Linked DNA regions of Homo sapiens: region 1 is linked to region 2. Evidence: fine-mapped expression QTL. Tissue or cell type: fibroblasts. Region 2 holds a variant in brackets; the other region holds the start of a gene. All regions are shown on one strand. Distances are from middle to middle.

Region 1 (11,242 bases), 55 kb before region 2:
GCTTGACATTTTTCTTAAATTGTGTGCTCCAGGTTATGCTGATCCGATTTGTAATCAGATAGAATTGAGAGAAGTGACCTATGTTACCTTACAGTTGCCTGTATACGTCCTGAATAGTAAATGTAGAAAAGCTTTGCTGTGGGGAAAGAAAAGAGCCACTGTCCAAAATCATGGATGAATTCTCTCCTGCAATTAAGAAAGTGATGGGCCATCGGAGAAATGCAAATCAAAACCACAGTGAGATACCATCTCACACCAGTTAGAATGGCTATCATTAAAACGTCAGGAAACAATAGATGCTGGAGAGGATGTGGAGAAATAGGAACACTTTTACACTGTTGGTGGGACTGTAAACTAGTTCAACCATTGTGGAAGACAGTGTGGTGATTCCTCAAAGATCTAGAACTAGAAATACCATGTGACCCAGCCATCCCATTACTGGGTATATACCAAAAGGATTATAAATCATGTCGCTTTAAAGACACATGAACACGTATATTTATCGCGGCACTATTCACAATAGCAAACACTTGGAACCAACCGAAATGTCCAACAATGATAGACTGGATTAAGAAAATGTGGCATATATACACCATGGAATACTATGCAGCCATAAAAAAACGATGAGTTCATGTCCTTTCTAGGGACATGGATGAAGCTGGAAACCATCATTCTGAGCAAACTATCGCAAGGACAGAAAACCAAACACTGCATGTTCTCACTCATAGGTGGGAATTGAACAATGAGAACACGTGGACACAGGAAGGGGAACATCACACACTGGGGCCTGTCGTGGGGTTGGGGGAGTGGGGAGGGATAGCATTAGGAGATATACCTAATGTAAATGACGAGTTAATGGGTGCAGCACAGCAAGATGGCACATGGATACATATGTAACAAACCTGCACGTTGCGCACATGTACCCTAGAACTTAAAAGTATAATTTAAAAATAAATAAATAAATAAATAAATAAATAAATAAATAAATAAATAAAGGACGAGCCAAGGAAACTTCCCACCCGTCTGGCCCTGAGCAGTGACTTCAACCTCTGTGCTATTTCACCTGCAATCTTCTCCTGCGAATGGCATTTTCTCCCGTTTTGTTGTTTTTGTTTCCTGATGGTAATTTATTTTTCTTTTAGACAAACTACAAGAAAAAAATAACTTCTCTGACCTTTAGTGCCTGTTTTGACTGCTCAGTTGGATTTTTAAAATGCTTCTAGTCATCTTTCTACTGATAATTGTTATTTGTGGCAACCTCATGGAAGAAGCTAAGGCACAAAATATAATTTTAAAGCGTTTACTTGAGCCAAGATGAGGACAGCTGCCTGAAAGACTCAGACCCAAGTAACTTTGGATATGAGCTTCATTCAACCTTTCTTACAAGCAGGTTTTTAAAGGCAACAAGGCAGACAAGTTGTCAGGAATTCCCATTGGTTAACAGAAATGACAATGATTAGTAATTAGCTATATATTTTTGAACTATAGGATATTAGTTATGGTGTCCAGTGCATGGCATTGTTAGGTTAATTTACAGCTACTTGTGGCGACAGTCAGTCTAGAGCAAGCAGATTCAAGAGATGATTAGCTTAGCTCCAGGGGAGAAGTGGGGCCTGACTGCTGCCTCATTCCCTTGCCTCTCTGGGCCTGATCATTTACAGGAGGCTTGCATTCCTCGGATAAAGTTTCTTTTCTTTCTCATTTGCTTATTCTGTTTCCTTTTCTTCTTTCACATTAAATGGGAAGAAGAAAGTACAAATTCCAGTTCAACAGGTATGTGCAGTCTTATGCCGAAACTAGGACGCCATTTTCCTGGATTATCCATGAAAACATTTTTTCATGGTCTCCAAGGCGGATTCCCTGTTCTGGTCTCAGCTGGATCCTTCAAATAAATTGGATGAAACCAATCTTTGCCATCTCTTTCTCGCGTTATTTATACCTTGACTTGACTCCTATTCCAAACATAACCAGTTTCATCACCAGTACAGAAGGTGACACCATCGGAGCAGGAAAGAGAAATAAGAGCTGCAAAGCCTGTGTTGTGAAAATACTAGGCTCATTCTTTGTCCAAACACCTGAAAAGACTGTGTATTCTGCCATTTGCCAAAGTACATTGTCATATCACATCAAAGAACCCCAGCCCAGGAGGGGACATTGAGGTGTCTGACACGACTTCCTGTCTGATGTATGGGTACCCTCTACAAACATCACCAGTAAACGAGCTGCCCTCTTCCTCTGCCGATCCAGAGACAAAGAGTTGTGCCTCTTGCAAAAGCTCTGCTTTTATGCAGTTCAAACTTTAGAAATCTCTTCCTCTAGTTGAGTCTAAATGTTCTTCCCCGTAACTTGCATTCACTGGTCCAAGTCTGCCCTCTGGAGCATCTCAGAATAAGTCTCCTTCCTCTTCCATCTCACAAGTTCTTCCTAAATTTTTCGGATGAATTAAATAGAAGCTTCTACCAACTATTAACTCCATACCCAGCCTTTTGAAATGCAGCTTGGAAAATGGGAAATTTTCCTACTGAACCTTTAGATCATAAATGGATGCAATAAAGAAAGCACCAAATTCCTTCTTTATTTTACAACTCTACAAATCTCTAGGGATGACATGAGCACAGGTGAGTGCACAAGTACACACAATGCACACACACACACACACACACAGAGTGACCCTATTTCTCCATTTTTCCTAGAGCTGACTTTCACACAAACCCAAGATTACCATTACGAATAGGTAGATATAATCAAGACACTTAGCCAGGGAGCCAACATTTGCCTTCACCTAACAAACAGAATGTAAATACAATAGGTAATTTATTTTTGACATAGACATAAAATAGCTTTTTACAATGGAATGATTTTCACTCCAGATCTAAGCAAAAATGCATTTTCTTTTAAGAATCGTGGGTGATCTCAGTGATTATCTGACTCAATGCTCTCTCTTTTTAGATAAGTAATTTAAGGCCCAGAGGTCTTGATTAAGATCAGTGTCACAGAACTCGGGTTATTTGAACTCTGAGAGGAAGGCTGAAGAAGATTAGTATTGTCTTGCTTGCTCTCAGAAGATAAGAGCTGTGCTTTGACAATTGCAAATAGTTTTCGAACAAAATTTTCTTATGGCACAGCTTTCTGAAACTATTTTACAATGCGTTAACTTCTAGTAACATACATTAGGATCTAATCTTAAGTATTAATTTATTTGAAAATATCTCAAAACTTGTATCCCCCAAAAAGTTCAAAATATATCTCCAGAGAAAAATAAAAACCAACTATCTCAAAATTCACCCTTTGTTTTCCCCAGAATCAAATCTCTAGGGATGACACGAGCACAGGTGAGTGCACAAGTGCACATAATGCACACACACACACACACACACACACACAGAGTGACCCTATTTCTCCATTTTTCCTAGAGCTGACTGTCATACAAACCCAAGATTACCATTACTAATAGGTAGATCTCATCAAGACACTTAGCCAGGGAGCCAACATTTGCCTTCACCTAAAAAACAGGATGTAAATACAATAGGTAATTTATTTTTGACATAGACATAAAATAGCTTTTTACGGTGAGAATGATGAGGTCATTGTGACTTCTACACTTGAAACAATTGGACTTTCTCGTACTTTTGCACTTGAGAATTTAAAATAATAATAAAGAGAACGAAAGAGTACTATGTTGGTACTGCTCCTCACATATTTCATTGGTAAGAGCAGTGATGAAATAGCAATAAAATTTATGAGACAAGAGTTGTGGCTATAAATAGGGATATGCTTTGCTCGCAAACTGCATAGAATCCCCTTCCCTTTAAAAAATATATAGAAGAGGCCAGGTGTGGTGGCTCATGCCTGTAATCCCAGCGCTTTGGGGGGCCAAAGTGGGTGGATCACCTGAGGTCAGGAGTTTGAAACCAGCCTGACCAACATGGTGAAACCCTGTCTCTACTAAAAATACAAAAAAATTAACCAGGCCTGGTGGCACGCGCCTGTAATTCCAGCTACTTGGGAGGCTGAGGAAGGAGAATCACTCGAACCTGGGAGTCAGAGATTACAGTGAGCTGAGATTGCACCACTGCACTCCAGCCTGAGGGACAGAGCAAGTCTGCCTCTCTCAAAAAAAAAAGTATATATATATATATATATATATATATGAAAATAAAATTCCATCACCTAGAGAAAATCACTAGTCACATTTTTGTATGGTTGTCCAGCATTTTCCCCTACATATATGTAAATATACTATATAATGTTAAAATATTGGGGTGAAACTGCTTTTTATTTAACACTGCATTGTATCTCCAGGTCATTAAATTGTCTTCAGGATCATGGCTCTGCATTTTTTAACATGTAGTTGCTCCCTTATTTATATAACACATTCTCTGTTGGTGAAATTTATTGTATTTTTTTGCAGTTTTTCTTTTCCTACCATGACAAATAAGCTCATCTTTTCCAGTCCTTGTTCATTCAAAGCTGGAAACAAACAACACACACACCCAAATCAGACCTGAGATTCTATGCACAAAAGTGCTTCTTGAAACAAATTATCTAATAGTATTGTAAAAAGAAAAAAAAAGAGATAAAATAAGCCAAGTGATATGTGTCACTCAGTGTTCCAGCGAAAAGCTGACTCCAAAAATTACGTGATCATAATAGCAGAATGATGAAAGAGTGACAGACAAAAGGTAAGAGCATGAGGATGAAGAGGTAATACTCAAACAGCTTTGGAAATGGAGAGGAAGCTGGCGAATGACACAAAGGACAGCTGGAGGATGAACCAGTTTCCCAAGGGGCAAAAGAAACAATGTTGTTTGACATCTTCAGCAAACATTCCAAACTGTAGGGAAGAGGGATGATGGGTTTGTGTTGGTGATAACAGCAAAGTATTAAAGCATGCCTAAAAACTTTCACCATAAAGCAACAATTATTCTTGGTAATGCTACCAGGATAACAAGTTTCTACATGTTGTCATGCTGGCAAAGAAAATAGGGTGTATTTAGAGATTAGATGCCCCATGGACATGTGGTCATGGAAACAAAAGCAAACAGCTAACGTGGCTATGTGTTGAGGTCAGTATTTGAGGGAACATCCGGTGTGTGTTTTATTCAGTATTGTGTAGTACAGAAAAGATCACACATGTATATGTCAGAAGTAGATGCACATGTTCTTTTGGCTTTTTTTCTTTGTTTTATTCTTTTTTCATTTTTTGTGTTTTTTGTTAGTTTGTTTTGAATTTTTTTTCTTGATGCATATGTTCCTTCAACTTATTCAGTACTTCCATGTGCAGGGCTCTGGACTAGACTTTCAGGATCTAAGGCTGAATCCTACACAGTCCTCCCTCTGGGAAAGTGATGAAACCTGTGAGCTCTCCTAGCAACTCTGCAGTCTTCCTTCAAGGTATGTGTTGCAATTTGGGGTTGCACATTTTAGTTGTGATATTTGTGATTAGTTGATTAATGTTTGTCATCCCACGAGACTATAAGTGCCATGAGGGTAGATATCTTATCTGTTTTGCTCCCCATTGCTTTTCTCACAGACTGCTCAGCAATGAATCTTTGTTGAATAAAATAATACTTTATACAAAGGTTAGTGATAAATGTAAGAAGCATCTAGATCAAGAACTGATACATTCTTAGGACAGAAAGATTAATCTAGACAATAGCTTTTTGTCTGGAATTATCTTTTATGGAAGAGACGGCCTTGGCAATCAGAAGAGCAGATTAAGCAATTAGTGTAATCATCTAGGTGGGAAGTAATGGGACATAAAGAACTAGAATAGAAACAATAAGAAGGGAGCAGAGTTGATAAATAAAAGCAGTACAGATACAAAATTGTCAGACGGTGGTCACCCATGGGCTATGAAGGGCAAGAAGAAGCAGAGTCTAAGAATGTGCCAGGTGACTGGGAGGACGGAGATTGTAGAAGAAAGAAAAGGGCAGCTGCTTTAGGTGCACGGAGGGCGAAGGACCTCAGGTTCGAATGTGTTGATGTCACCCTGGTGGAGATGTCAAGCAAGATGAGAGCATGGGATCTGCAGGTTTATGAGAAGACCAATTCAGAGAAACAGAATTTTGAGAAATCTACACAGCGTTTTTCCTTGCAGTTAGAAAGGTGGATGAGGTTGTCTAGGGAGATTATATAGAGAGAAAAGCAGAGGACCAAGGACAGGTGCTTGAGAAATGATGAGACTTGGCAGGACTACTTTTTTAAAAGTTCAGGAAGAAAGAGAAGAAGTGGCATTTCTCTTTTTGGTGCATAAAACCCTATAAGAGAAGAAACCATCCTATTCCCAATGCCAGGAAGTTCCCTATGTACCTTGAGAAGGTCTTCCAGGTTTCAGAGGTGTGGAAGATATCAGTTCCTTGGATAAAGGCAGCAGCTACACACTTTCTAGCAGCAAAATGGCTGAAGAACTGAAGGGTTTAGGATTTAGGAGATGGCTACTGGGACTCCAGCCCGTGAACATCCCAAAATGACAAAGACAGCTCTTGGTTAGCATGTCTGTCTCTAAATTGTGCTGACTAATAAACAGCTGTGAGCTCTTTGATTCTCAGTCCATTCTGACTGGGTCACTGTGGGGAATCCTTTAAAACCAATGAGGCCATAAAGCTTGAGCTTTGCCTATCCCTGTTGTTGGAATATTTTGTCTCCAGTCTCCTAAAGATCAGTCTGAGAGACTGGAACACACCTCACAATTTCTTCCTGCAATCTGAAGTTAAGCTCACCCGGGTCTACCATTCAGCCTGGTGATGATTCCACTTCCTTATGCATCAAGATGTTATCATGCTAAACTAGCTAAAACCACTAAAAAAATATGGGATGACTTGGAAAGGTGGAGAAAAGTGGGTAAAAATACAGTAATTTTTTTGGTAAGTCTCCATTAAGCTAATAATAGGTAAGCACCCTCAATGGCTAAGAGCCAGTACCTTAGACCACGTCCTTGAATAAAATAGATGGTCAAGGCTGAAGTGAATGAAATGGTGACATAAGCATCATGCAGCACATTTTGAGGCTTATGGCAACACATGCATATTAATGCAAATATGTGCATTGAGTTCTAAGTGCTAAGGACTGTGATAGCCAATGAGGATAAGTAAAATAATGGTCAAAAGCTTTAGGAAAAGAACTTACGTGAATTCCTTACTTAAATGCCATAACTTAAGAGACTTCAGGTGTGCAGTATTTATTACATAAGCTGGAGAAATTTCATGCTTTGCTAGGCAACAGCCTTGTAGTCCACAGGACATGCTAGATAGCTCCTTTGGTTGATTGAATTGGTCACATTTGGAAAGTGTGCAGCCTATGTATAAGGAAGCATTGGGGCTGCCTTGCTCAGAAACAGGCAGTGAGTAAGGCAGGCATTCAAGGAATCATGGCCGGCCATCTGTAGCCTTAAGAGGTGTGTGCCAGACCCAGGGAGTTGACTAATAAAGAAACTGAGTTAACTGAGAAAGGTCATAATAATATTATATAGTACTGTTGCTCCTTGACTTACGATGGGGGTTACATCCTAATAAACCCATTGTAAATGGAAAGTGTTGTAAAATGCATTTAACACACCTAACCTACTGAACATGATAGCTTGGTTTAGCTTAGCCTTAAAATGTGCTCAGAACACTTACATTAACCTGCAATTGGGCAAAACCATCTAAGACAAAGCCTATTTTATAATAAAGTGTTGAATATCTCATGTAATTTATTGAATCCTGTAGTAAAAATGAAAGACAATGGTTGTATGAGTACTAGAAGTATAACTTCTTGTGAATATGCATTGCTTTCAAATCATCATAAAGTTGAAAAATTGTAAATGAACCATCGTAATTCAAGGAACATCTGTATATATAATATATATAATATATTCTGTTATATATAAATATATGTATGTATATAACACATAATACAATAATTTATATTATATAAATATATTAAAATATATAATACATGTGAATATATATTCATATTGCATATATATTTACATTGCATATGAATATATAATATATAAGTATATAAATTATATGCATGATATAATAATAAAATGTAATGATAAAGAAACTTAGTTAACTAAGCAACACACAGTGAAGTTAAGTGTAACATTAGAAAAAAACAGAAGGCCAGGCACGGTGGCTCATGCCTGTAATCCCAGCACTTTGGGAGGCCAAGGCGGGTGGATCACGAGGTCAGGAGATCGAGACCATTCTGGCTAACACGGTGAAACCTCATCTCTACTAAAAATACAAAAACTTAGCCGGGCATGGTGGCAGGCGCCTGTAGTCCCCGCTACTTGGGAGGCTGAGGCAGGAGAATGGCGTGAACCTGGGAGGCGGAGCTTGCAGTGAGCCGAGATCGCACCACTGCACTCCAGCCTGGGTGACAGGGCAAGACTCCGTTTCAAAAACAAACAAACAAAAAACCAGAAAAACACGTGTTCAACGTTTCATAGTTGTCTAATTTCTGTTGAGACTATGGCCAACACACTTTATAATTCTTCCTCAGAGAAAACGTATTGTTTCTACATAGACTCTACTTATTAATAACAATCTTATGTGTGGCATCACTGGCCTGTTTGTATTGTTTTCTTTTTCTTTTCTTTCTTTCTTTTTTTATATACAAAAATCTCCATTCTAAGAACTCAAGTTAGGAAATGCCATAGGATTGGTTATGACTACCGAGAGTAAAAATCCACTGAAATTTTAAAAAACTGAAAAACGTTAAACCTCACAAATAATGAGAAAATAATGCAATAAACCCCCATGTGTACACCCAGCATCAGCAACTGTCAATATTTTGACAGTCATTTTTTATCCTTTCCTCCTTTTTGCTGAGATGTGAAAGTGAAATTCTCTGGTACAAAAATAACATAAATGGCTTAAAAGTCTAGCTATGTTTCTCTGGTGTACAAATTTTCTTTACAGTACATTTTTCTTTCCTTTCCCACAACCATTACCCAAATTCTACTGGTGGTCACTGAAATGCCGCTTATGATGGCCTCAACTAGAAAAATCTCTTTATTTTTCTACCTGCCTCCAAACAAGAAAGAAGTTGGTAACTCATGTCATAGTTCACAAGTCTCTAGGGATTCTACATGTCTGCTTCAAGCCGTCAGTGAACTTTCAGAAAACAAATGCAAATATTTTACATTTGTTTATTATATAAGGGGGTTTCAAAGCTTCTATCAACATTTTCATAGGGGCCTATTACCTACAAAAGGTTAAGAATCTCTGCCTCTATTATGTCTTGAAAGCATATCAAATATACTTTCTCACTTCCACTCCCTAGTTAATTCTATTTATTTATTTACTTATTTTGAGATAGGTTCTCTGTCACCCAGGCTGGAATGCAGTGGTGCAAGCACAGCTCACTGCAACTTCAAGCTTCTGGGCTCAAGTGACCCTCCTGCCTCAACCTCCTGAATGGCTGGGATCATAGGCATGCACCACCACGCCCAGCTAATGTTTTGTATTTCTTTCAGAAATGAGGTTTCACTATGTTGCCCAAGCTGGTCTCAAACTCCTGGCCTCAAGCGATCCTCCCACCTCAGCCTCCCAAACTGCTGGAATAACAGGCATGAGCCACCTCACCTAGTCCTTAGCCAATTTTTTATATCTAAATCAGACATTGGACACCACTTCCAGGATGCCTTCCCTGACAATGTCACCTATAACTGATTTCCCTTATGTTTTCCTACAAAAGTTAAGGTAGGTTACTTTCCTGTTTATCACAGTCTTTCAATCACTGGACGAGTATTTATCAGGTCCTACTATTTGCCAGGCACTATCCTATACTTTAGGTATGCTTTGTCTCCTAATGCACTGTTAGAAGAGGACAAGGAACATCACAGTATCCAATACGTCTTCTGTGTCCGAAGACATATTGTAGTTGTAGCTCCAGTGAATGGAAGCAAGGATGAGCTGCTGCATTTCTGTAGCTGGCATTCAGCTCAAGAATACGTAAAACCAGACTCGTGGTTTTTTCTTTCTTTCTTTCTTTCTTTCTTTTTGAATGTGAGGCCTTTACAGAAAAAGAAAATGTCAGTCTGATTATCCAGGGCATGAGGATAAAGAGAAGCCCAAACAAAGGTTTCCCCCACTCCACCCCACCCAATATACTGTGGCACTAGAAAACGATTCCAGAATCAGAAACTATATGCTGACGTCCATTAGCCCTCTTAGTAGCACCTGAAATAGACCAGCGTCTATGTGAGACCTGTAGTTGTGTCCTCACAAATAACCTGTTATAGACCAGCGTCTATGTGAGACCTGTAGTTGGGTCCCCATAAATAACCTGAACTGGAAACAACAGCTCGACATGAACTCTGCCCCCTACGCTGGGGATCAGGAGCACGAACCTCTATACAAAGGGCGGCAGAGCGGTTACTAAATGTGCTCATTTTTCGTCACTAAGAACGTGCATTTTTAAAGTGCATAGATCCCTGATGATAACGGAGTTGTTTGATAATAGGCGGTTGAAGATACTATTACGTTAGGGACCTGGAAGAAAGTAGTTAACGCTATTGTCATAGAAGCAATGGGGGGAGGAAAGGTTTGTGTCCAGTTTTGGGCAAAAACTTCTAAGTTCCACCCCGCCTTCTGATGGATGCTTTTTTGATGGGGCTCGTTTTGCAAAACTCAGCAGATTAGGCATGTTGTGTAGTGGAATGATTTGGAGCGTCTAAGCCGTGGCACCCTACTTAACCCCCCCATCTCCAGTTATCCCAATGAACCGACCCCGAGGGGGCATTTCCGCTGAAGTCCGGGGCTGTAAAAAATTAAGTGAGAAGAGCCGCGCTAAAGCCAAGCGTCGTCGTCACCCAAGGTACTGCGCTGATGCGCTGCGGGCCGACCAGGTGCTCCCGCCGGGGCGTCTTCTCCTACGCAGGAAGGGCCACGCCGAGAGAGGCAGGCAACAAGGGCACGGCTGGAGGCCGGAAGGTCACCCCGTCCCCGGCGGGGCGGGCGCGGCCCAGCCTCACTTCCCGGGCACGTTCGGGCGGGGCGATTGCAGGGAACGGGGCGGGGAGGCGACAGTCCCCGGCTCCGCCGCGCGCCAGCCCGCCTTCGCTGCCCGGAGGCGCCGCAGGCCTGGGTTCCCGGACAGCTGAGCCCGAGCGCCGCCTCCCGAAAGGTGAAGGCGGCCCGGGGAGGCGGGGACGGTGACGGGGGCGGGGGCCGCGGGCGGTCTCCCGACGGCTGTCGCGGGGCCAGCCCAAAGCCCCCGATCCCCGGTAGCTGCGCTTCCCGCGCGGGGC
Region 2 (11,242 bases):
ATACACATGTTTGTCTTCTTTGTGTTGTTTTTGTTTTGGGTTTGGTTTTTTGGGAGGGAACACTGATTCATCTATTAGTTGTGTGTGTTTCGGGAGATTAACCATCCAGATACCAATTAGACCCAAGTCATTGTTGTCTTAGGTTCTAAGGCTTTTAAATATTATAACATTTTTCAGAAAGATTTTATTCTCTGCAGACTAAAAAGCTCAGCAGATTTTTCCAATAACTGCACATATAAAGAGCCACATAAACAGTAGACTAAATATCACAGATGATCCACATGAGAGTAATAAATGAGGACACTAGTTTGTCCATACATTTTTCATAAGGTACTGAAATAACTGAAAATTGTCTTAACGAGTAACAGTAACCATGAAACAGCAAGATAATTAGAGAATGAAGGTAAGCAGCAATAGCAACCACCTGCTGCTACAAGCTGAGGATCATGTAGCCTCCTTCCTGGACCTTTACACAATTTATGTTCCCATCTATTTATTGAGATCAGTAATCCTCATACATTATTATAGTTGTGCTACTTGGAAGCTGTGGCTGGCACAATTCATCCTTAATTTCACTTTGAGTTATTGAGTAAAGCTATTCAATGTGTAATAAGATCACAAATATAAGGTAGGTAAAATGAATTTCCTTCCTCTCATCATACTGATGAGTCACTTACCTGGTGCCCTAACTGAAACAACTTCTTTACTGGGAGCAAATGGACTCTATTCTTGGCTGGTTACTGGATAATCTGGCATTAGACATTATCTCATTTAAGTTACTTATTTCTTCAGTTAGATTTCTTCTGAGGCAAAACTCTCTCAGCACTTTCTGTATATACTATGACATAATCTTATTGAATGGGGATACTGCTTTGACATTTCACCTGATCTTTGAACCCAGTGATCTCCAATTTCTAGCTGCCCAGAAGGCACTGACTGGATGGCATTCATCCCTCATGGGAATGGCAGAACACAGATGAGAGAGGATACTCTGCTCAGTTTTAAGTTCTAACATGGTTTAAAGTACATAACAAGGCAACTGCCTCAAAGCAAAAGGGGGTTTTAATTGAAATATACATGGACCAAAGTGCATATATCATAAATGTACAAATAAATGAATGAATTTTTCATAACCTGAGCGCCCTCATGTAACCCGAGCCCAGATCAAGAAACAGAACATTATCAGCACCCCAGGACCACCTCCCAACCCCCAGTGCTCCCTGCCAGCTGCTACCCCAGGCAGCCTCTATCCCACTTCTAATGGCCCACATTTGTTTTATCTGTTTTTGTACCTTCTTTATTTTATTTTATTTTATTTTATTTTATTTTATTTTATTTTATTTTATTTTATTTTATTTTATTTTATTTTTTATTTTCTTTGATCTATCTATGGGCTCATGTTTTTGTACTTTCCATAAACGGAATCCAACAGTGTGTATTCTTTTGTGGACTTCCCTTTTAATATGATATTTGTGGAATGTATATCATTTGGATGTTTGTCCCCTCCAAATCTCATGTTAAAATGTGACCCCCAATGTTGGAGGTGGGGACTATTGGGATGTGTTCGGGTTATGGTGGTGGATCCCTCAGGAATGGCTTGGCATCCTCCTTATGGTAATGGGTGACTTCTTGCTCTATCAGTTCACATGAGAGCTGGTTGTTTAAAGGAGCCTGGCATCTCCTCCCCTCTCTCTTGCTCCCTCTCTGACCTTGTGACACACGTGCTCCTCAGTCACCTTCCACCATGAGTAACAGCTTCCTGAGGCCTCACCAGGATCCAAGCAGATGCTGGTGCCATGCTTGTACAGCCTGTAGAACCATGAACCAAACAAACTGCTTGTCCTTATAAATTACCCAGGCTCAGGAGTTCCTTTACAGCAACACGAAATGGACTAATATAGGGACTGATCCATATTGTTGCATATGGTTGCAAACTTCCATGCTACCCTGGTAGCATTTCATTCTATGAATATACCACAATTTATTTGATCATTTTACTGATGATGGTCACATGTGCAGTTTCCAGATTTGTGCTACTTCGAAGAGTGCTTCTTTGGATATTCTAGCATATGTCTTTTGGTGAATATGGGTGTCCATTTCTTTCGGATATATGTATATACTTTTAAGAGTGGGGTTGCTGGGCCATAGGCTATGCATATGTGTAGCTTTAGTTGTTGCTGTCAGGCGGTTTTCCAAACAGATTGAAACAATTCACATTTCTTCCAGTGGTGTATTAGAACTCACCGATTCCATGTTTTCACCAACACTAGATATTCTTTGTGTTTTCCATTTTACCCATTCTTTTGTATAGGTGGTGGGATCCTATTGTGGCTTAAATTTGCGGTTCCCTGATACTAGTGAAGTTAAGCCCCTTTGTGTGTGTTTCCTGCCCGTCTCCTGACCATTATGAAGTGTCTGTTAAAGTCTCTCGCCCATTTTTCAATTGTGTTGTCTTCTATTACTCTGTGATTTGTAAGAATTGTTTATATTCTGGATACTACTCAATTGTCATCTGTATGTACTACGAATACTTCTTCACACTCTGGGTTGAATTTTCCTTCTCTTCATGGTGTCTTCATTTTAATATAGTCTACTTTATTTTTCCTCTTATGGTTAGCACTTTATATGACCCTTTGTAAGAAATTTTAACTTACTCCAAGGTCATGAGGATGTTCTGTATTTTCCTCTAAAAGCTTTATTGTTCTGTATGATAGAAAGAGGTTTTAATTCATAAATGTATGTCAGTATTTGGAGACAGAACTGTTCTAAAGCCACGTGTGTTTTCCATAGAGCTAAAACATAGAGGACTCACTACAGGCAAAAGTGTGGTACAGAAAGAAACTCAAGATAGAGGTAATAGAAGTTCCCATCACAAACAAATGAGAAATCCCTTCTGATGACAGGGCTAAGTGCTTACAGCCTATTACCCTGGCCTCTGTGCTAACTTCTTAGGAGGAGCAGGTATAAAAAGCACCGTCTTGAGGACATTTAGTTATAGCACCTCCTCCCTGGTGACAAGGAGCCACTCTTGGGGACAAAACAAAGCCTTCTTTCTCAGAGTTCACTAGATTTCTGTGGGTCAAGTACAGAGTGTCATCTCCTTGATGAGACAGTAGAAAAACCTTTTCCCTGGAAGCCTTTTCAGTTCCTCAGAATATTTTTACTATTTGCCTCTGGGTGTGAATATGTGCATAGCTTTCCAGTGATCATTAAGAAGCTGGAAAAACTTGGGAAAAAACCTTTTTACTTTTATTTGTCAACACATCAAATACTCAGAGTTGCCTTTGAAATTGTGGCTGTTGGATATATATGTTAATGTCCACCTCTCTATCCCTGTTTCTTTACCCAGAAACATGGCATTAAGAAAGATTGTTCAGGGGCTGGGCGCAGTGGCTCACGCCTGTAATCCTAGCACTTTGGTAGGCCAAGGCAGGTGGATCATGAGGTCAGATGTTCAAGACCAGCCTAACCAACAGGGTGAAACCCCGTCTCTAGTAAAAATACAAAAATTAGCCAGGCATGGTGGTACGTGCCTATAATTCCAGGTACTCAGGAGGCTGAGGCAGGAGAATCGCTTGAACCTGGGAGGCGGAGGTTGCAGTGAGCCAAGATCATGCCATCGCACTCCAGCCTGGGTGACAGAGGGAGACTCCATCTCAAAAAAAAAAAAAAAAAGAAAAGAAAAAAAAAAAGAAAGATTGTTCAGGGTGGGAGAAGATGGGAGGGGTGATTTATTGGGGGAAGGATATGGTCATTATCTTGAGTGTCTTGATGGTTTCACACATACATACACGCATACGCACACACATATGTATGTAAAAACATCAAATTATATACTTTAAATATATGCAGTTTGTTATATGTCAATTATACCTAAATAAAACTGTTAAAATATGATTTAAAAATTTAAAAGAAATATTGTTGAATTGGCTAGAGTTCCATCATTCATGAATTCACTAAACGTATTTAGACCTATTACATTTAGGGCCAGTGCTAGATATTATGGGCTAACCAAAGATGTGTATGAAATCTTGTTTCTTATTTAGAAGTTCAGAATCTAGTAGAAATACTTAAGCCATTATAATACTTTACAGCACATGACATATTTCAAGTGCTGTGGAATTAGGGAGTGTAGAGGTTATATTTCTTTGAGAAGGTGGAGAAGACTGTAGGTAGAAGTTGCCACTAGGCTCACAATATTAAGTTCAAAAAAGTAGGATGCAAAACTGTCCGGTTTTCTCTCAATTTTATTATAATATATCTCTACGAGAAAGAAAACTTTTAATCTTTATGAAGAAAAAAGGGGGAACTTATATGGTAACAAGTTGTCATCTAATAAAAACTGATGTATACTTTTCACTTTTTCATGATCTAGATATTCTACAGTTCATATGATGAACTGAGCTTTTTATTCCTTTTGGTGGGTGGGATTAGAATACCCATGATATCTCTCCATCAAGAGTTCTGAGGGACCCAGGCTGATGCCTCCAGGACAAGGAACATTTCATTGCAGTGATAAGGGATAGGGAACTTGGAAAGCAACACAGTGGGGTAATCCTGATCTTTTCAGATGACGTTTATGCCATAGCAAGTCACTTAGGGTTTATCTGAATTCAAGTAGGTAGAAAAATGTTAGCCTAATCACATGTCCAGGGAAGGAAAACTAAACATTTGTGACTTCTCAGTAGAACCCTGTTGCTAGTAGCAGGAATTGCCAATGTCCTTCTCTTTGTTTTTCTACCCTTTGGAAACATGCCAGGCCACTAACTCTCCTGTTAGTTTTCTGTCACTTTCTGTCCTCTCTTCCATCCTCCAAGAAATAAATGCTGGAAATAGGCAGAGTTTGTGGGGCAAGGGAAGGAACAAAGATGATTCAATGTCTGGGATCTCCTCTTCTGTGCCTACATCAACTTCCCCCAGCAAAGTTAGTTGTATCTTTGTCTACTCAGTCTCATTTATGTTTTTGTCATCACATTTACGATTTCTTTTGATTGCTAGCATTCAATTTTGGGGGTTTGTTTTAAGGTTACCTCGTAAGCTTTACAAGTTGCTTGAAAAGTAGCAATAAAGGTAAGATATTACAACACTATGTGTCAGCATCCTTGCACGCTAGTTATTTAAAGTGTAAAATAATCATTTCAAAATGTTAATTAAAAAAGCAGTTTCCCTGCCTTGGGAAAGGTGTGGTTGTAAGAAACAGAAGTGAGTTCAAGTGAAGAATATTTCAGGGCTAGAACAGGGTATGGATTTGAGATTCAAGGTTAGGAAATGAAGTACCTCAGGACGCAAGGCTGGTACTGTAAAATGAACAGGTTTCTTGGAGATGAGTGACCCTGAGCCCCTATCTAGAGCCTACATAGGGACTAGAACTAGAATATCATCTACTAGACTTCCCCAATCTTTCTGCCTTTCCCCCCACCATGTTATGAAGCATCACGGATTCTCATCTTGTTTTTCTTTCCCTACAGCTACATTTATTTTGCAGAAAAATATTCTTTTGCTTCATCCATATGTGCATGGCTAAAAATGGACTCCCTAACACAGACTCCAAGTGATCACAACCAACCACTTGTGGTCATCTGACTATTCAGGTCTTTTAGTTCAAATTCTCAAGACTGGGTCAGTCTCACCCATGGACTGGTTCCCTGTAGATCTGGTTTTCAACCTGGGTCCACTCAGTGAGGCGGGGATCCCTGGAAAGAGGAGGCACAAGGCTCAGAAGCAGGTTCTCTTGGATCGACAGTGATGAGCAACTCTGATGCGCATCCTTCTGACTTCCTAGTTAAAACGTTTACCGTCTCATACTTTTAGTCTTTTTATAAACCATCTTAGAAGTTATGATTTGTAGATAACATACTTCACTAAAACTACATGAATGAAAAAGGATGATCAGGAAAAATGCTTTGTTTTGGGGACATTCTTAAATTGGAAAACACTAAATTAACATTTCCACAGTGTCTTCTACAGAATATTATTTCCTAAAAAGACAAGAGGTGTTTAAAGACAGAAAGAGTATTATAGACCCAATAATTCTGAGAAAAAAGCGAGATTTTTGAAACATCAACCGGGACTCTTTTCTCCAAGATTTTTCAAAACTCATAGTGTGCTGGTGTGCATTTTGAATCTCAAAGGAGGGACACAATGTGAGGCTTTAAGTACTGACTTTTTATGTGGATTATTTTATGGGTCTGGAATTTGACAGCACACAGATTAGGAATCCTGGCTAATCCAAACCCTTTATCTCTCGCTTCATCTGGAAACCCGTGCTCTTGTTTTAGTACTAGTCTTATTAGCTTAGTCACACTTTCAAACTCACAAGGAATTTGCTTATATAAATAAAATTCATGTGGAAACTATT[A/G]TAGGAAATTTAAATCCGCAGCATTTAAAATTTAAATCTGCAGTGTTTATAAAGTTAACTGTAAAATATCAGAAAAACAAAATAGATTTATATTACTTATACACTTAAAAATAACTATCTTTTAGGTTACCCGATGGTAGTAGAGGCCATAGAAAACTTAGGGGAAGATCTTGGGGGTGCTGTTCAGATACTACAAATTCTGAGCTTGAAATTGAAGTCATTTTTAAATTGCAATTTGCAAGGAACCCAGTTTATGTCGGTTACCACTTAACATTTCCAAGTGCAACAAAGAAAAACTTGCTTGTTCTAGTGTTCTCTAAAACGTATTGCTTGATTGATTCCTTGAGAAAGGGGAAACGTAAATAGACTAAAATCTACTGAGATTTTGATTTAAATGAAAAGCACACAGTGTTTCTGTTTTTCTCTTGTGTGGGCAGTTATAGCCAGCCATATGTTTACTTCGTAAATTTCAGTTGAAGGTGCAACATAAGCTGTTTCAATTTGGGTGGAAGTTTAGTCAGACCTCACAAATTAGATTTATACTCAGTTAGGAGTTTGCTAGGATTTTTTGCAGGGGCTGTGGGTAGGTTCATACTGATTAAAGACAACCTATTACGTTTTAAGAGTAAATCCTGAATATCTGTTCCTTGAAACGGAAGGAATGATGGAATTATATTATCATCATTCGGTGATACTTGTAGTAATAATTGGGGCAAGAATCATTGGTAGATGCTAAAACTGGTGGGTGAGCAAATAAGAAACAATATTTGCATAGTCTCAAAGTCTCTCTCCATACAGGGAAGACACCGTCTTACCCAAGTACTTCCCACTTCCCAGGATAGGGGTAGAGGTGCGGGGACAGAGGCTGTCCAGGGACAGTATCTTCTCTCCAGTTACACTCCCATCTGCCAGTTTGCAGGTGTAGTGTCCCCTCCCTTCCCCAGCTCCTCAGGGTGATCACTCCCTCTGCTAACCAAAGCCAATACTACCCTCTGTACTCAGAGCCAGATTCCATTCTCACTATGTGTATTTATTTGATCATTTGCTGGGGGTCTGCTGTGTCCTAAGTGCTGGGGACTCAGTATTAAATAAGACAACTCCTTGTTCTCCAGAGTCTTCCAGCAGACTCTGCCAGAGAAAAATATCTTATCTAAATTCAACAATTACAGGACTATGTGATCCCTGTAGAGGTATGCATGGGATGCAATAGCTGATAGCCATCAGTAGGGCCAAATGAGTTCTTAAATGATTGAAAATACTTTCATACTGATGGGTAAAAGCCACAACCCGAGTCCCTGGCCACTTCCCTGGGATACCACTCACTCACATGCCAAAATAGAATAGAATAATTACAGGGTTAAGCCCAAAACGGGACCTGCTCTTGTGCTTTTCTTACTCCTTCCCTGTTGCCCTTATCCTGCCTGGAAGGTCAGGGAAGTCTTCCTGGAGGAGATGATGCCTTTTCCAAGAATGACTAGAATTTAGCCAGGTAAAGCATAGCATATGTTCAGGCCCCTGGATGAGAGGGAATGTGCCACCGCTGAGAAACAGTGGGTCATTGGGTATTATGGCTAATGCTGAGGAAAGATGGTGAGAAATAACCCTTAAGAGGTCTGGTGAGGCCAGATCGGAAAGAGCCTTATGTGCCCGCCTAAGCCAGCTGAACCCAATGGGACAAGCTATAAAATGCCTCTGAAGAAGTTGAAGGTAAGAACTGAGGGGGATAGTGTGGAGCAAGATGGCTAAATGGAAGGCTCCACTGATGGTGTGTCCCCACTCCGCCACCCTCCCCACAAGGACCAGAGTTAACACACAAAAAAAGCACCTACATAAGAACCAAAAATCAGGAGAGCGCTCACAGTGCCTGGTTTTGACTTCATATCACTAAAGGAAGCACAGAAGAGGGTGAGCAAGACAGTCTTGATATGCCCATGCCATCCCTCCTCCAACTCCCTGGCAGCAGCCATGTGCATGCAGAGAGAATCTGTGCTTAGGGGAGGGAGAATGCTGCGTTTGTGAAACACCGTATCGAACTCAGTGCTGCCCTGTCACAGTAGAAAGCAAAGCCATGTGGCTGAACTCAGCTGACAGCTGCCCACAGAGGGAGCATTTAAACCAGCCCTAGCCAGAGGGGAATTGCTGGTCCCAGCAGTCTGAACTTGAGTTCCGGCAGGCCTCACCACTGTAGGCTAAAGGGCTCTGGGGTACTAAATACACTTGAAAGGCAGTGTAGGCCCCAAGGACTGCAGCTCCTAGGTGAGTCCTCCTGCTGAACTGGCCTCAGAGCCCGTGGACCAGGTGGGGAGGAGGGAACGCCACTACTGAGACACCAGCTAGGGCTGCTAAGGGAGTGCTTGCACCACCCCGCTCCCAACCCAGGCTGCACAGCTCCTGGCTCCAAAAGAGCCCTTCCTTCTGCTTGAGGAGAGGAGAGGGAAGAATAAAGAGGATTTTGTCTTGTATTTTGGATACCAGTTCAGCTGCGGTAGGATAGGGCCCAGGCAGAGTCCTGAGGCCGTCTGTTCAGGCCCTACCCCCCAGATGATATTTCTAGACACACCCTGGGCCAGAAGGCAACCTGCTGTCTTGAAGGGAAGGACCTAGTCCTGTCAGGACCCATCACCTTCTGACTAAAGAGCCCTTTGGCCCTGAATAACCAGCGGTGATACCCAAGTAATACGCTGTGGGCCTTGGGTGAGACTCTGAGTCTTGCTGGCTCCAGATGCGACTTAGCACATTCCCATCTGTGGTGGCTATGGGGCAACACTCCTGCTTAAGAAAAGTGGAGGGACAAGGAAAGGGGACTTTGCCTTGCACATTAGGTACCAGCTCGGCCACAGTGGGGAAGGGGTCTTTGGAAAGGGGAGGGAAGAGTGGGAAGGGCTGCATCTCATGGCTTGAGTGCCAGCTCAGCCACAGTACACTAGAACACCAAGTAGACTTCTAAGGTTTTTGACTGCAGTCCCTGGCTCCCAGACAGCACCTCTAGACCTGCCCACGGCCTGGGGGAACTTGCTACAGAGGTTACACTGAGCCGAGATCATGCCACTGCACTCCAGCCTGGGCGATACAGCGAGACTGCATCTCAAAAAAAAAAAAAAAGAAAAAGAAAAGAAAAGAAATCCTGTCATTCGCAATAACATGGATGGATCTGGAGGTCATTATGTTAGCTGAAATCAGTCAGGCACAGAAAGACAGGCTTCATATGTTCTCACTTATTTGTGGCAGCTAAAAATTAAAATAATTGAACTCATGGTTATAGAGAGTAGAAGGATGGTTACGAGAGGCTGCAAAGCGTAGCGGGGAGGTGGGAGGGAAGTGGAGATTGTTAATGGGTACAAAAAACAGAATAAGACCTAGTATTTGCTAGGACAACAGGGTGACTATAGTAAAAAAAAATTTATTTGTACATTTTTAAATGACTAAAAGAGTATATTGGATTGTTTGTAACATAAAGGATAAGTGCTCGAGGTGATGAACACCCCATTCTCCCTCATGTGATTATTACGCCTTGCATGCCTGTATCAAAACATCTCATGTACTCCGTAAATATATACACCTACTATGTACCCACAAAAATTAAAAATAAATAAATAAGAAGCAACACAACCAGTCCTATATTTTACAAAAATAATTATGACGTAATTGAAATTGGGAAAAGCATTGAATGGCAAGAGAACCGTTTTGCCAGCTGTTGAAGTAATTCAGTAAAGAAATGGGCACCTATACTAAAATAAAAGCAGTACTGATACAGAGACATGGCTGGAACCCAAACACTAAAAAGGGAGAATTAATAGCGCTTTGCTATTGGGTTGAAATGGTGAGCTACCTGTTATGAAATTTTGAAATCTATTTAGCATCAGATACAATGGTCTTATCCAAAGTAAACCATTTGGTAAGAATTTTGGCTATGCTTCCAAAATTAAGAATTCATCTTGTACAGGAACTTATTACACAATAATTAGCTCTTTCTCAAAATTGTTTTCCTTAACATGGCAGGTAAAAACCATGCATTTGCTAGTCTTTTGGCTACTATGGCGAGGTTATAGTGAAGGTATTGTTCTTTGCAGCTTATAAGAAAGTGTGCAAACAGCATGAGTTTGCAGTTGTAGGCTCCAGATTTTAGGAAATCTGCATCCTCCTTCAGCCATCTATGGTGCATAGGCTGACCTGCATGCCTTGGGTTGGTCCTGTTTTCTCCAGGATGGATCATGAAGCCGCCCAGCTGGAGAAGCAGCATGTGCACAATGTGTACGAGAGCACAGCCCCTTACTTCAGCGACCTGCAGAGCAAAGCCTGGCCTCGTGTCCGCCAGTTCCTGCAAGAGCAGAAGCCAGGCAGCCTCATCGCTGACATAGGTAACCAGGCAGCCTCATCGCTGACATAGGTAACCAGGCAGCCTCATCGCTGACATAGGTAACCAGGCAGCCTCATCGCTGACATAGGTAACCAGGCAGCCTCATTGCTGTCATAGGTAACCCAGCACTGGGCCGTGTAGCATGAAATACCTTCCATTGAGCCTTTGCTTTTCACATTGATTTTTCATTTTTGTTCTAATAGGAATCCTGAAATTGCACCCTTGGCATGCCAGTACCTAGAATATTCATTTTACAGCAGAAACTCGAGACAGTCAAGTCAGCAGCAAGTAAAAAACTTTCTCAAACTTTTATTTTATTTTTATTCTTTTGAGATGGAGTTTCACTCTTGTCAACCAGATTGGAGTGCAGTGGTGCAATCTCAGCTTGCTGCAAACTCCGCCTCCCAGGTTCAACTGATTCTCCTGCCTCAGACTCCCAAATAGCTATGATTACAGGCACCCGCCACCACGCCCAGCTAATTTTTGTATTTTTAGTAGAAACGGGGTTTTGCCATGTTGGCCAGACT

Alleles and levels. Alleles are on the strand shown, and positions count from the first base shown. SD is a standard deviation of normalised expression in the study named.
For the expression in fibroblasts of the gene that starts at base 5,101 in region 1, allele G in region 2 goes with a lower level than allele A (moderate effect, 0.43 SD a copy in GTEx).

The links. PIP is the estimated chance that this variant, and not a neighbour inherited with it, causes the effect.
Region 1: it holds the start of TRMT9B, and the variant in region 2 is fine-mapped to the expression of TRMT9B in fibroblasts (GTEx, PIP 0.96).

What each region holds. Positions count from the first base shown.
Region 1 is chr8:12,940,573-12,951,814 of GRCh38, forward strand. It overlaps TRMT9B (tRNA methyltransferase 9B (putative)), which reads left to right and starts at 5,101. Exons shown (of 5, transcript NM_020844.3): 1 at 5,101-5,394. RefSeq lists enhancers at 1,318-1,857, 10,295-10,795 and a silencer at 10,967-11,116.
Region 2 is chr8:12,995,641-13,006,882 of GRCh38, forward strand. TRMT9B (tRNA methyltransferase 9B (putative)) reads left to right here. Exons shown (of 5, transcript NM_020844.3): 3 at 10,562-10,716. The coding sequence starts at 10,563. All of the region lies in intron 4 of LOC124901889 (a long non-coding RNA gene), which reads right to left. Among named protein-coding and RNA genes, the nearest start is that of TRMT9B, 56 kb to the left of the region's middle. RefSeq lists a silencer at 10,460-10,754. The variant A/G (reference allele first, on the strand shown) is at 6,359.